Linked DNA regions of Homo sapiens: region 1 is linked to region 2. Evidence: fine-mapped expression QTL. A gene starts in region 2. The other region holds a variant in brackets. All regions are shown on one strand. Distances are between the middles of the regions. Region 1 overlaps FAAP24 (FA core complex associated protein 24). Region 2 holds the start of SLC7A10 (solute carrier family 7 member 10).

What was found.
Region 1: its variant is fine-mapped to the expression of SLC7A10 in whole blood (TOPMed, PIP above 0.99).

Annotation. Positions count from the first base shown.
Region 1 is chr19:32,975,259-32,980,570 of GRCh38, forward strand. It overlaps FAAP24 (FA core complex associated protein 24), which reads left to right. Exons shown (of 5, transcript NM_152266.5): 5 at 1,173-2,971. The coding sequence ends at 1,424. It overlaps RHPN2 (rhophilin Rho GTPase binding protein 2), which reads right to left. Exons shown (of 15, transcript NM_033103.5): 15 at 3,334-4,998. The coding sequence ends at 4,738. Among named protein-coding and RNA genes, the nearest start is that of FAAP24, 5.7 kb to the left of the region's middle. The variant C/A (reference allele first, on the strand shown) is at 2,246.
Region 2 is chr19:33,223,559-33,228,931 of GRCh38, forward strand. It overlaps SLC7A10 (solute carrier family 7 member 10), which reads right to left and starts at 2,292. Exons shown (of 11, transcript NM_019849.3): 1 at 1,995-2,292. The coding sequence starts at 2,145.

The DNA.
Region 1 (5,312 bases), 250 kb before region 2:
TCCTGGGTTCAAGCGATTCTCCTGCCTCAGCCTCCCTAGTACCTGGGATTACAGGCACCCACCACCATGCCCGGCTAATTTTTGTATTTTTAGTAGAGATAAGAGTTTCACCATGTTGGCCAGGCTAGTCTCAAACTCCTGACCTCAGGTGATCTGCCTGCCTCAGCCTCCCAAAGTTCTGGGCCACCGCACCAACCAACACTTTTTTTTTTTTTTTTGAGATGGAGTTTCGCTCTTGTTGCTCAGGTTGGAGTGCAATGATGCAGTCTCGGCTCACTGCAACCTCCTCCTCCTGAGTTCAAGTGATTCTCCTGCCTCAGCCTCCCGAGTAGCTGGAATTACAGGTGCCCGCCACCACGCCCAGCTAATTTGTATTCTTAGTAAAGACGGGGTTTCTCCATGTTGGTCAGGCTGGTCTCGAACTCCCGACCTCAGGTGTTGTGCCCGCCTCAGCCTCCCAAAGTGCTGGGATTACAGTCGTGAGCCATCGCGCCCGGCCGCCAACACTTATTTTTAAAATCAGTTTAGTAGCTTACGCCTCTGATCCCAGCATGGGGAACATCAATTGTGTGTGTGTGTTGTTTGTTTTTTTCACTTTTGTTTTCTTTGTTATGTGTGTGTTGTTTTTAAATCACCCCCTCTGATGTGGAGCTAGAGTTGAGAGCCACATTGAAGATGCAAGCAGCCATGAATGGTTCACAGATCCCTCTCTACTATATCCCTTGCGTCACCGTTCCTAACTTTCCTTGATATAACACTGTTGTCTGCCTTAGTATAACCACCACTAACTAGACCAGGTTTCTCCTTTGAGGCAGGCTTCCTGCAGCTCCTGCGTGAAGTAGGCCTAGTTTAGGTGTAGCCATCATTTAATCCTGCACAACTGAAATGTTTCTTAATGGACCAACAGAAAGTGTTTGAATTCATCTGTGTGTTTTTCTAAACATTCTGAAAACGCACATTTTTGTAAATTAATGTCTTAACTCCTTTGTGTGGTTCACCTTTCAATAATTTTACTGATGTCTGAGAAATTATATTCATGATACATGAAAACATTTGTTCCCTTAAGTCAAGCTGAGCCAAATGGAAAAACGCAATTTCTACAAAACATATTTTAAGAAAACGGCCAGTCCTCCAGAGGGCGCTCACGTGCTGTTGCTTTCATTGTGGTTCAGGTTCAAGAGCAAACCAAAGAGCCCAGTAAGAACCCTCTTCTCGGGAAGAAACGGGCCCTGCTGCTGTCTGAGCCTTCGCTCCTTCGAACCGTGCAGCAGATCCCAGGAGTTGGAAAAGTTAAAGCTCCCCTTCTCCTCCAGAAGTTTCCAAGCATCCAGCAACTGAGTAATGCTTCCATTGGGGAACTGGAGCAGGTGGTCGGACAAGCAGTGGCACAGCAGATCCATGCCTTCTTCACGCAGCCCAGGTGAGGGCTGGCCTCAGGGCCACGGCATCTTCTCCTGAGACCACAAACACCAGGATCTTGTTTTCAGCTTTAAAAACCAAGAGAATGGGCCGGGTGCACTGGCTCACGCCTCTAATCTCAGCACTTTGGGAGGCCGAAGACAGCGGATCATCTGAGGTCAGGAGTTCAAGACCAGCCTGGCCAACATGGAGAAACCCCTAAAAATAGGAACAATTAGCCAGGCATGGTGACAGGTGCCTGTAATCCCAGCTACTTGGGAGGCCGAGGCATGAGAATCACTTGAACCCGGGAGGCGGAGGTTGCAGTGAGCTGAGATCGTGCCACTGCACTCCAGCCTGGGCACCAGAGCGAGACTCCGTCTCAAAGAAAACAACAAAAAAAAAAAAAAAAGAAAAAGGATTTTCTCCAGCAGCAACCAGTGAAAGATGAGGCGAGGCTTGAATGGAGCCCGTGGGTCGTCCTGCCTTAGCGTCTGAGTTCAGCTTGTGAAGTTAGTGGGCCGCAGAGGGCACTGCCTTCATTCTGCTAAGACGAAAAGGGCTGGTGGGATCTTCGCAAGAGAGTCAGGGACTCACACTCAGCAAAAAGCATTAGGGCCGATTTTAATGTGCGACCTTGACCTGCATCTGTCATGGAAAGTGCCTTCTAAAAAGCTTCAGTGGTGGATGTGACCATCTGAAGGAAACAAATGTACAAGGAAGCACTGTGTATCCTAAGCCCTGGGTTCCCAGAGTTTCACCTGCTGTTCATCAGGTCTGGCCTTCATATACCCGTACTGCGAGGGCTGTTTCCAATGTAAATAAATAACTGCGCAACAGTTCCTTC[C/A]TCCTTTCCTTTGTTCCTCCCTCCCCCCGGCCTTTTTTTTTGGCAGATGTACAGTTTGTTTATAATCACTGCATATGTCTTCTGCACACAGAAAGTATGAAGTCTGAAGTTCCCACTTAAAGTTGAAAACTCAACGGCCGGGCATAGTGGCTCACACCTGTAATCCCAGCACTTTGGGAGGCCAAGGGGGGTGAATCACAAGGTCAGGAGATCCAGACCATCCTGGCCGACATGGTGAAGCCCTGTCTCTACTAAAAATACAAAAATTAGCTGGGTGTGGTGGCACACACCTGTAATCCCAACTACTCAGGAGACTGAGGCACGAGAATCGCTTGAACCCAGGAGGTGGAGGTTGCAATGGGCCGAGATTGCACCACTGCACTCCAGCCTGGATGACAGAGTGAGACTCCATCTCAAAAAAAAAAAAAAAAAATTTAAAGTTGAAAACTCAACATGCATGAGGCAGAACAGGCTGTGTTTGTATATGAAAGGCCCAACAATGGAAGGATACAAGAAAATGATGGCAGCAGCTGCATCTAGTGAGGGAAGCAGGGGCTGGGGATCAAAAGGTACAAATTGCCCATTCAAAAAATAGACACAGGCCAGGCACAGTGGCTCACACCTGTAGTCCCAGCACTTTGGGAGGCTGAGGTGGGAGGATTGCTTGAGTCCAGGATTTCGAGATCAGCCTGGGCAACATGGCAAGACCCCATCTCTACAAAAAAATCAAAAAAATTAGCCAGGCATGGTGGCTCATGCCTGTAGTCCCAGCTACTCAGGAGGGTGAGGTGGGAGGATTGCTTGAGCCCGGAAGGTTGAGGCTGCCATGAGCCACAATTGCGCCACTGTCCTCCTGCCTGGGTGACAAAGCGAGACCCTGTCTTGAAAAAAAGACAAAAACAAAAAATAAGCACAAAGATACCATCTGTCTTAGAAAATACTAAGATAACTTGACAGCTTTTTAAGTTCTGCTTTGTGAAATGTTAGTAACTAAAAAAATCAGAACATTAGAAACTGTGTGCATTGGGGAGAAACAATTTGAAAGAGGAGGGAATGAAAATGAAATAAAAGTAAAAAGAAATATTAACTCGGGTAAATGAATATGTTTATTTAAATATGTATACAAGCATGGCCCTAGGAGCAGCAGATACACTTTCCCAAAGGTGGTTGCTTCCTTTAAGATATTGCACAATAGAAAATAAACTCTTGTCAATCCTTAAAATTAGTCTTCAATGCTATGTATTTTAGCTATGTAACTTGTACTGTGTCAACAGTGAACCTTATTAGATTCACGGTGTCATCGAACTTATAGCAAGATAAAAATCAATCAGTAGGAATGTCATTTTAAAAAGTAAAATAGTGGGACGGTTGTGGTGGCTCATGCCTGTAATCCCAGCACTTTGGGAGGCTGAGGTGGGTGGATCATTTGAGGTCAGGATTTCGAAACCCGCCTGGCCAACATGGTGAAACCTCACCTCAACTAAAAATACAAAAATCAGCCAGGCATGCTGGAGGGCACCTTGTAGTCCCAGCTATTTGGGAGGCTGAGGTAGGAGAATCGCTTGATCCCAGGGGGCGGAGGTTGCACTGAGCTGAGATCACACCACTGCACTCCAGCCTGGGCAACACAGCAAGACGCTATCTCAAACAAAAAAAGGAAGTCAAATAGAGCTTTAAACCTGAATCATTTACATCTTTACTTTATAAAATGTAAAACTACTTTTTTACCCAAGACTTAAAATATAGAATTATGTAACTTCTACTTTAAACAAAATGAAAAATGTTTTGAGTATCAAACAGTATATTATCTACCTTGTAGACAGCATCTTCATCTAACACTGCCACTGTGTTAGTAATTCTTAAATGACATCAAACTAGAAGAAAAGCTGCTCCTACATTGTTTTTATTTAATAAGACAAATTTGGCACTAGACTTTTTCTAGAAATAGCATTCATAGTCTATCGATATAATAGTAACATCTTGTTTTAGGTTAATGAATTCCTATTAGGAAGCAGCACTTTGGGACAGTTTTTAGTGACACTAATTTAATTCTATCATTACAGTCCTCTGACCTGCCTTAATTCCAGGATCATCTGAATTCTAGGTTAAGGAATGATTATTAGCCAAACCTGGAAACAACTACAAATTGTACTGATATAGGTAACCCCAATTTAATAGTGACTAAAAGTCATAATTGTCACCATTAAAAATAGCCATATTTCATATCTTCAACACTATTCTATTTACAATACTTTATATAATAAATAACTTACAGCAGTATAGTAACACACCTCAAAAAAGTTCTTTTTTCACTAATTCCTAGAGGTTTCTTGGTTACTTTCCTTCATAAAAACACATCAAATGTGAGTTTACACTATGAGAAAAACAGGATTTGAGAACAGATAGATAGATATTTTCCATTATGGCACAAACGTTTAAGGCCGAGTCAGCACCGGAAATGTTCAGGGCCTGAACATGTTTGTTTCCTCACATTAGTACCAAGAACTGTCTGAGTTGAGAAGGCTGAAAGGGGAGGGCAGCTTCTTCTTGACCTGAGGCCGTGCAGCCCCGACCGATGGGAGGCACAAGGTGCTGGCTGACTTCTGTCTGTTCTTGTTGGTGCCCCAACTCAGGAAGGAAAGCTTCTTGGAGATTTTCTTGGTTTTATCAGTTTTGTCGTCATCATCAATGGCTAAGCAGATCATGGAGTACGTTTTCTGCATTCCCACGGAGTATGTGGCACTCTTATTATGCTGCACATAGAAAAGTAAGAAAAAGGGCGTCAGGCATCATCAAGATAGATGATAAAAACTACGAAGTTTGGCCAGGCGCGGTGGCTCACACCTGTAATCCCAACAGTTTGGGAGGCCGAGGAAGGCGGATCACTTGAGGTCAGGAGTTCAAGACCAGCCTGGCCAACATGGTGAAACCCCATCTCTACTAAAATACAAAAATTAACCAGGTGTGGTGGTGGATGTCTGTAGTCCCAGCTGCTTGGAGCCTGGGCACAAGAATCACTTGAACCCAGGAGGTGGAGGTTGCAGTGAGCTGAGATCACACCACTGCA
Region 2 (5,373 bases):
AGTCCCCACCTCCTATCACCTTCTGGTTGAGGTTGATCTCCTTGTTTTTTCCTGCCTCGTCCAGCCTCCTGCCTGCTGTAATCCTCAAAGGCTCCCCGGGCCAGGCCAAGATCAAGGCTCCCCAAGACCACCACTGAGTGCCCCGGGCTTGGGTTCTGTAGCTGAATCCAGCATCCTTGGTTAGCTAAGTGGCCCTTCACCCTGGCTCAGTGTTCAAGGTTTGGAGGCCAAGGTAGTGGACCTGGCACAGCAGGAAGGAACTGAAGGGTAGGGGAGCTGTCAGGGCAGACCTGGGCTGCATGGGAAACTTACAGAGTCTGTCCTGGAAAAGGAGGGTGATAGTGGAGTTGGCCTTCTCCACTCCCACCACCACCACCTCTACCATCACCACCACCACCACCACCACCACCACCACCACCACCACCACCACCAGGGCCCCTTTCTGGGGAGAAAGGAGCCAGGCAGCCTCCCTGTGGCCTGGGGAGGATGGGATGTGGGGAGGGGATAGAGTAGGAAGACAGGTCAAGGATGCTGGGCTTAGCTGAGGAGCCCAGGCAGAGCTGTGTCTTTCTGCACCTGCCTGGCACTGTAGCTGGTTCTAGGCATGGTCTCAATCCTATGACCCACTCATGGTGTGAGCTTCCCCTTCCCTGGAGGACAGTTCCTGGAGAGGGTGTGGGCCAAGAAAAAGCTCTAACCAGCACCCTGGCCAAATCCCTGGAACCAGCCCTTCCTTCCAGCAGACCGTCCATCAGGCAGGGGCATCCTAGGCCAAGAAGCTCCCAGGGCCAGGTCAGGACCAGGCTCTGGGAGACAGCATTCTAAGGGGAGGGGGTGAGATGGCGGAGTGACCTGGCCAGGGGCTGTGTTCAGGGGCAACTCTGGATGTGAAGAGCTGCTAATGTGGGGGTGGGAGAGGACGAGGTGAAGACCCTGGGTCTGCCCTACTGAGCCCCCAAACTTTCTCCATCTCCAGGGGTCTGAGGGTGGGAAGGCAGTGAAGACACAAGTGGCTCTCACTGGCAGGGGACCGGGAAGACTGGCTGGCGGTAAGGTGAGAACAGTCGAGGCCCCAGTCACTCACCCCCCAAACCACTTCTCCTGTCCCTCCCTGGAGGGGCTCAGAGGCACTCTGTGTAGACAAAGAAACAAGTCAGTATCCATGACTTGGGACAGAGAGTGGAAAAATACCACTGCCATTCCCATGACCTCTGAGCTCTCTGCCTGCCCAGAAACCCCTATGTGGGGGCAGGACATGGACCCATTCTCAGGTGGGGACTTTGGAGTCCAGGGCCTCCAGACCAGGCGAGTGTCCAGTGCCCACCAGGATCCCAGCTCAGGGAGCAGCTGGCCTTCTGCAGGCTGGGTCTGCCCACTGCTGCCCCCAATTGCTGGCTAACCCGCCCCCTCTCCTGGGTCCTGCTGCCAAACCCTGCAGTCATTGCCTGCTCTGAACCTCCGTCCCTTCTGCGCAGGCTGCGCTTGCTCACTCTGCTCATAGGCCCTCCTGCTTTCCAAGAATAAAGTCACTGCACTGCGTGGCACCTGGACCCTGCACACAGTAGGTACTCAGACTGACCCACAGTACAGAACTTGGGGAGCTCAGCCTGCCGCAGCCTGACCAGCCCCTACACTGGTCAAGTTCCTGCGCTAATCGCAGGACTGCAGTCATGGCCATTTCACAGATGAGGAAACTGAGGGTAACTGCCTTGCAAAAGCCCCGCAGCAAAATCGAGTCAGGAGGAAGAGTCCAGCGGTGGAGGGGACCCAAAACTCCCCCAGGTGCAGGCGGCCGGGAGGTGGGAACACGGAGCTTTGGCACCCTGGGCCAGCAGCCCCTGACCTCCCCGCGGTCATAGCGCTCTCTGAGGCCAGACTGCAGGTTCCCCAGGCAGACCCGTCCGAGCGCCCGGAGAGGGGACGCCCCTCGTTCGGAGCGGCTGCGCCCCTCATTCGGCCTCCGCCCGGCGCCCGCCCGCCTGGGTCCCGCTCACCGATGATGATGGTGCAGGCGCTCAGCAGCCCGATCTCCTTCTTGAGCGCCACCCGCTCCGAGGCGCCGGGGACGGTCCCTGGGACTGGGGAGGGCGAGGGCGCAGGCCTGGGGTTCCCGCGCCCGCTCGGCTGCTGCGTGTGGCCGGCCATGTCGCTGTCCCGCCGCGTCCCCGCTCCCTGCGCTGCCCCGTCTGTCCGGCCGGCCGCCCGTCGGTCCGTCGGTCCGTGAGCTCACGGCCCTCGCAGCCGGGACAGCGCCCACAGGCGGGCGCATGCGCTGGCTCCGGGCCCGGGACTGGGGGCCCCGGGCGGCGGGGGCCCGGGAGGGGCGGAAGGAGGGCCGGCCCACAGCCCCCTCCCCCACCTCCCTTAAAGGGAACGCCCCCTCCCCCAGTCCCGGCCTGGGAAGGAAGGAGAGGACTTGGGGCAGATCTAGGAAGGACTTCCCAGTTGGGCGAAGGAAGGGACCCTCCAGTTGCCTGAGTTACATCCATTCTTGGGGCCGGGTTGGGGAGCAGAGCTCCGAGACAAGACAATCCCTGCTCTCAGGGAGGCCGAGGGGGACGGCAAGAATAACAGCTGGCCGCGTGTGGGGATGCAGTGTGTGCTCCCTTTAGTACTCTATGCCTGCACGATGTGTGTGTGTGTGTGTGTGTGTGTGTGTGTGTGTGTGTGTGTGTAGGAGACAGCTCCCAGGGTGAGTCCATTCTACAGGTGGAAGTTGAAGCCCAGAGATCAGTAGCGATCGCCGAGCAAGTGCAGGGCTGAGACCAAACCCTTTCTCGTGCCTCCTGAGGCTCCCAGGCGGACAACCTCAGGAGGGGTGGGGGTTGAGGTCTGGAACTCCTCTGAGGGGTCTGGGTGTCCTATGCACCCTGGATCAAAGGCCTGAGGGTCGAGGTGAAGATCCCGGGGGCTCTCATCCTCATCACGGGGACCCAAGACCTGTGACGAGTCCTGGACACGGCTCGCCCACCCTACCAGGCTCTGGGCCACCTCTGGCCTGAGATCTTCACTACAGGCTCCTCGTCCCAGGTCAGAGTGAGGGCTCAGCGGACTAGAACTCGGGTCTCTGGTGCAGGTCCCGCGCGATCCAGCCCGGCTCAAGAAGGCCAGGCGACCTGGAATGCCCGGGAGACACGGAGAAGGAGGCTGTGGTCGCGGGAGAGGGTCGGGAGTGCGGGGATCCGAGGGAGGCTGCCTCCTCCCGGAAGCCGTCCGGACTGTGCAGCCGAGGCCGGCGGAAAAGATCCAGGGGGGCCGCGTCGGGGCCACCGGGGCGGCGGGCGGGGCGAGCCTGGCACTGTGCGGCCGGCGGCGGAACAGCCTTTGTTTCTTCCTGGCGGCCGCCGCGACGCGCCGTCCCCTGCATGTGGATGAGGCCTCGCCGGGCGCCCCGTCCTTCCCCCCAGTGGCGGCCTCCGGGTTTGCTGGGGCCCTGCCAGGGGTCCGACGGCTGCAGGGTGGACCGGGGTGGGACGGGGCGGGGGCGGGTCCCTGGCAGGGGCGGGTCCCTGGCAGCGGCAGGGCCTGGAGGTGGGAGCGGGGCGGGGCCGGCGTTTGCAGGCACACAGGAGCTTCGAAGTTGGGGGCGGGGACTTGGGGTAGGAGTAGGAGCGGGAGGATCCAGGGTGGACGTGCTGGTGGGACGCCGAGGGGGAGGCCACCCGGCGAAGCTGCATCCCTCTCGCTTCTGTCGTCGGAGACCGGCATTCTTGGCGCCCTCCACCTCCAGCCCCAGAGACCATTCAGAGGCCGACTCTCTTAAAGGAGCCTCGCGCAGGGTAGGGGCAGCCCTGGCTCCGGAGACCCCTGATTGTCGCGGGTGTTAGGGGCCAGAGGCCTCGACCTTCTGGTTTGACTCTCCCCAGCCCCCCAGTTGCCCTCGCAATTCTAGGGTCTGCTGGGAGAGGGTCTAGCCAGGGCTGGTGCAATCAGGGGCAGCTTGCCAAGGGGCAGGGGCTGGCGCAAGCCTCGCAGCTCTGAAGCCTGTGGTTTTCGAGGGTGTCTCTCTGGGACCTGGAATGTGGAGTATGCGTTTGTGGGGGAAAGGTCGGCCTAGGGCTTTGCACAGGATGGAGTTTGTATGTTGTCAGCCAGGCCCCATAGCTCAGGAGGTCCTTTTCGTGGAATTGAACTAGAACCTGCAAATTTCAATGGGAACAAAAGGTTAGTAGGATTGGTTTACCATCCAAAAACCAATCAGCATGATTCTCCACATTAATAGAGAGAAAAAAGGAAAACCTCAACAGATGCAAAAAACAGTCATCCGTGATGTAAACAAACAACTCTTAGCAAATAGAAACAGAAGAGAACCTCCTTAATCTGATAAAAGTATCTACCTAAAAACAAATCTCCAAGAAACCAAGAAACAAACAAAAACCCTACAGCTGACATCATGTTTAGTGGTGAAAGTGTGAATGCTTTTCTACTGAGATTGAAAATGAGAAGGGATGTTGGCACTTGTCAATATTCTATACAATAGTGTACTGGAGGTCCTAGCCAGAGCAATAAGACAAGAAAAATAAGTAAAAAGGTATGAAGATAGTAAAGGGAAAGATAAAGCTGCCATTCACATATGATGTGATTCAGTATGTAGAAAAAAAATTACAGGTTAATTTAAGGAAGATAAGTTCATTTAGCAAAGTCGCTAGACAGAAGTTTAATATACAGAAACTAATTGTATTCTATATACTAGAAATAATTAGAAAATGAAATTAATAATAGCATAAAATCAAATACCTAAAAATAATTCTAGTGAATGATGTGTACAATTTTTATGCAAGAAACTACAAAACATTTCTGAGAGAAATTGTTAAAGACATAAGCTAATGGAGGGATATACCATGTTCATGGATTGGAATTTAAAATGTTGGTCTCCACATTGATTTATAGAATTGATAAATACATCCAATGTAATTTTGATCAAAGCACCAGACAACTTTGTTGTTGATTACAAGGCTTTTTTGGAGGGATGAAACTCAACAAGCTGATTCTAAAGAGTATGTGAAGAAGAACAAATCTGGAGGACTTATACTACAGTAAGGAAGACAGTGTGGCATTGATGCAAAGATAAACAAATCTACTGGTGGAAGAAAACAGAAATCCAGAAACAGACCCATCCTGGTTTATTATGACAAAGTTGATATTGCAGAACAGTGGAGAAAGGACGGGCTTTTCAATAAGTGGTGGTGGATCTATATATTGAAGAAAAAAACCAAAACCCTTTTAATGTCACCCTTCCATTATACCCTAAAACCAGTCCCAGGTGATGTACATGTGAAATGTACGTGTGAAAGGTGAAACATCAAAGCTGCTAGAAGAAAACTCAGGGGAGAGAATAGATACATTTTCTTAAACAGACATAAGAAACACAGT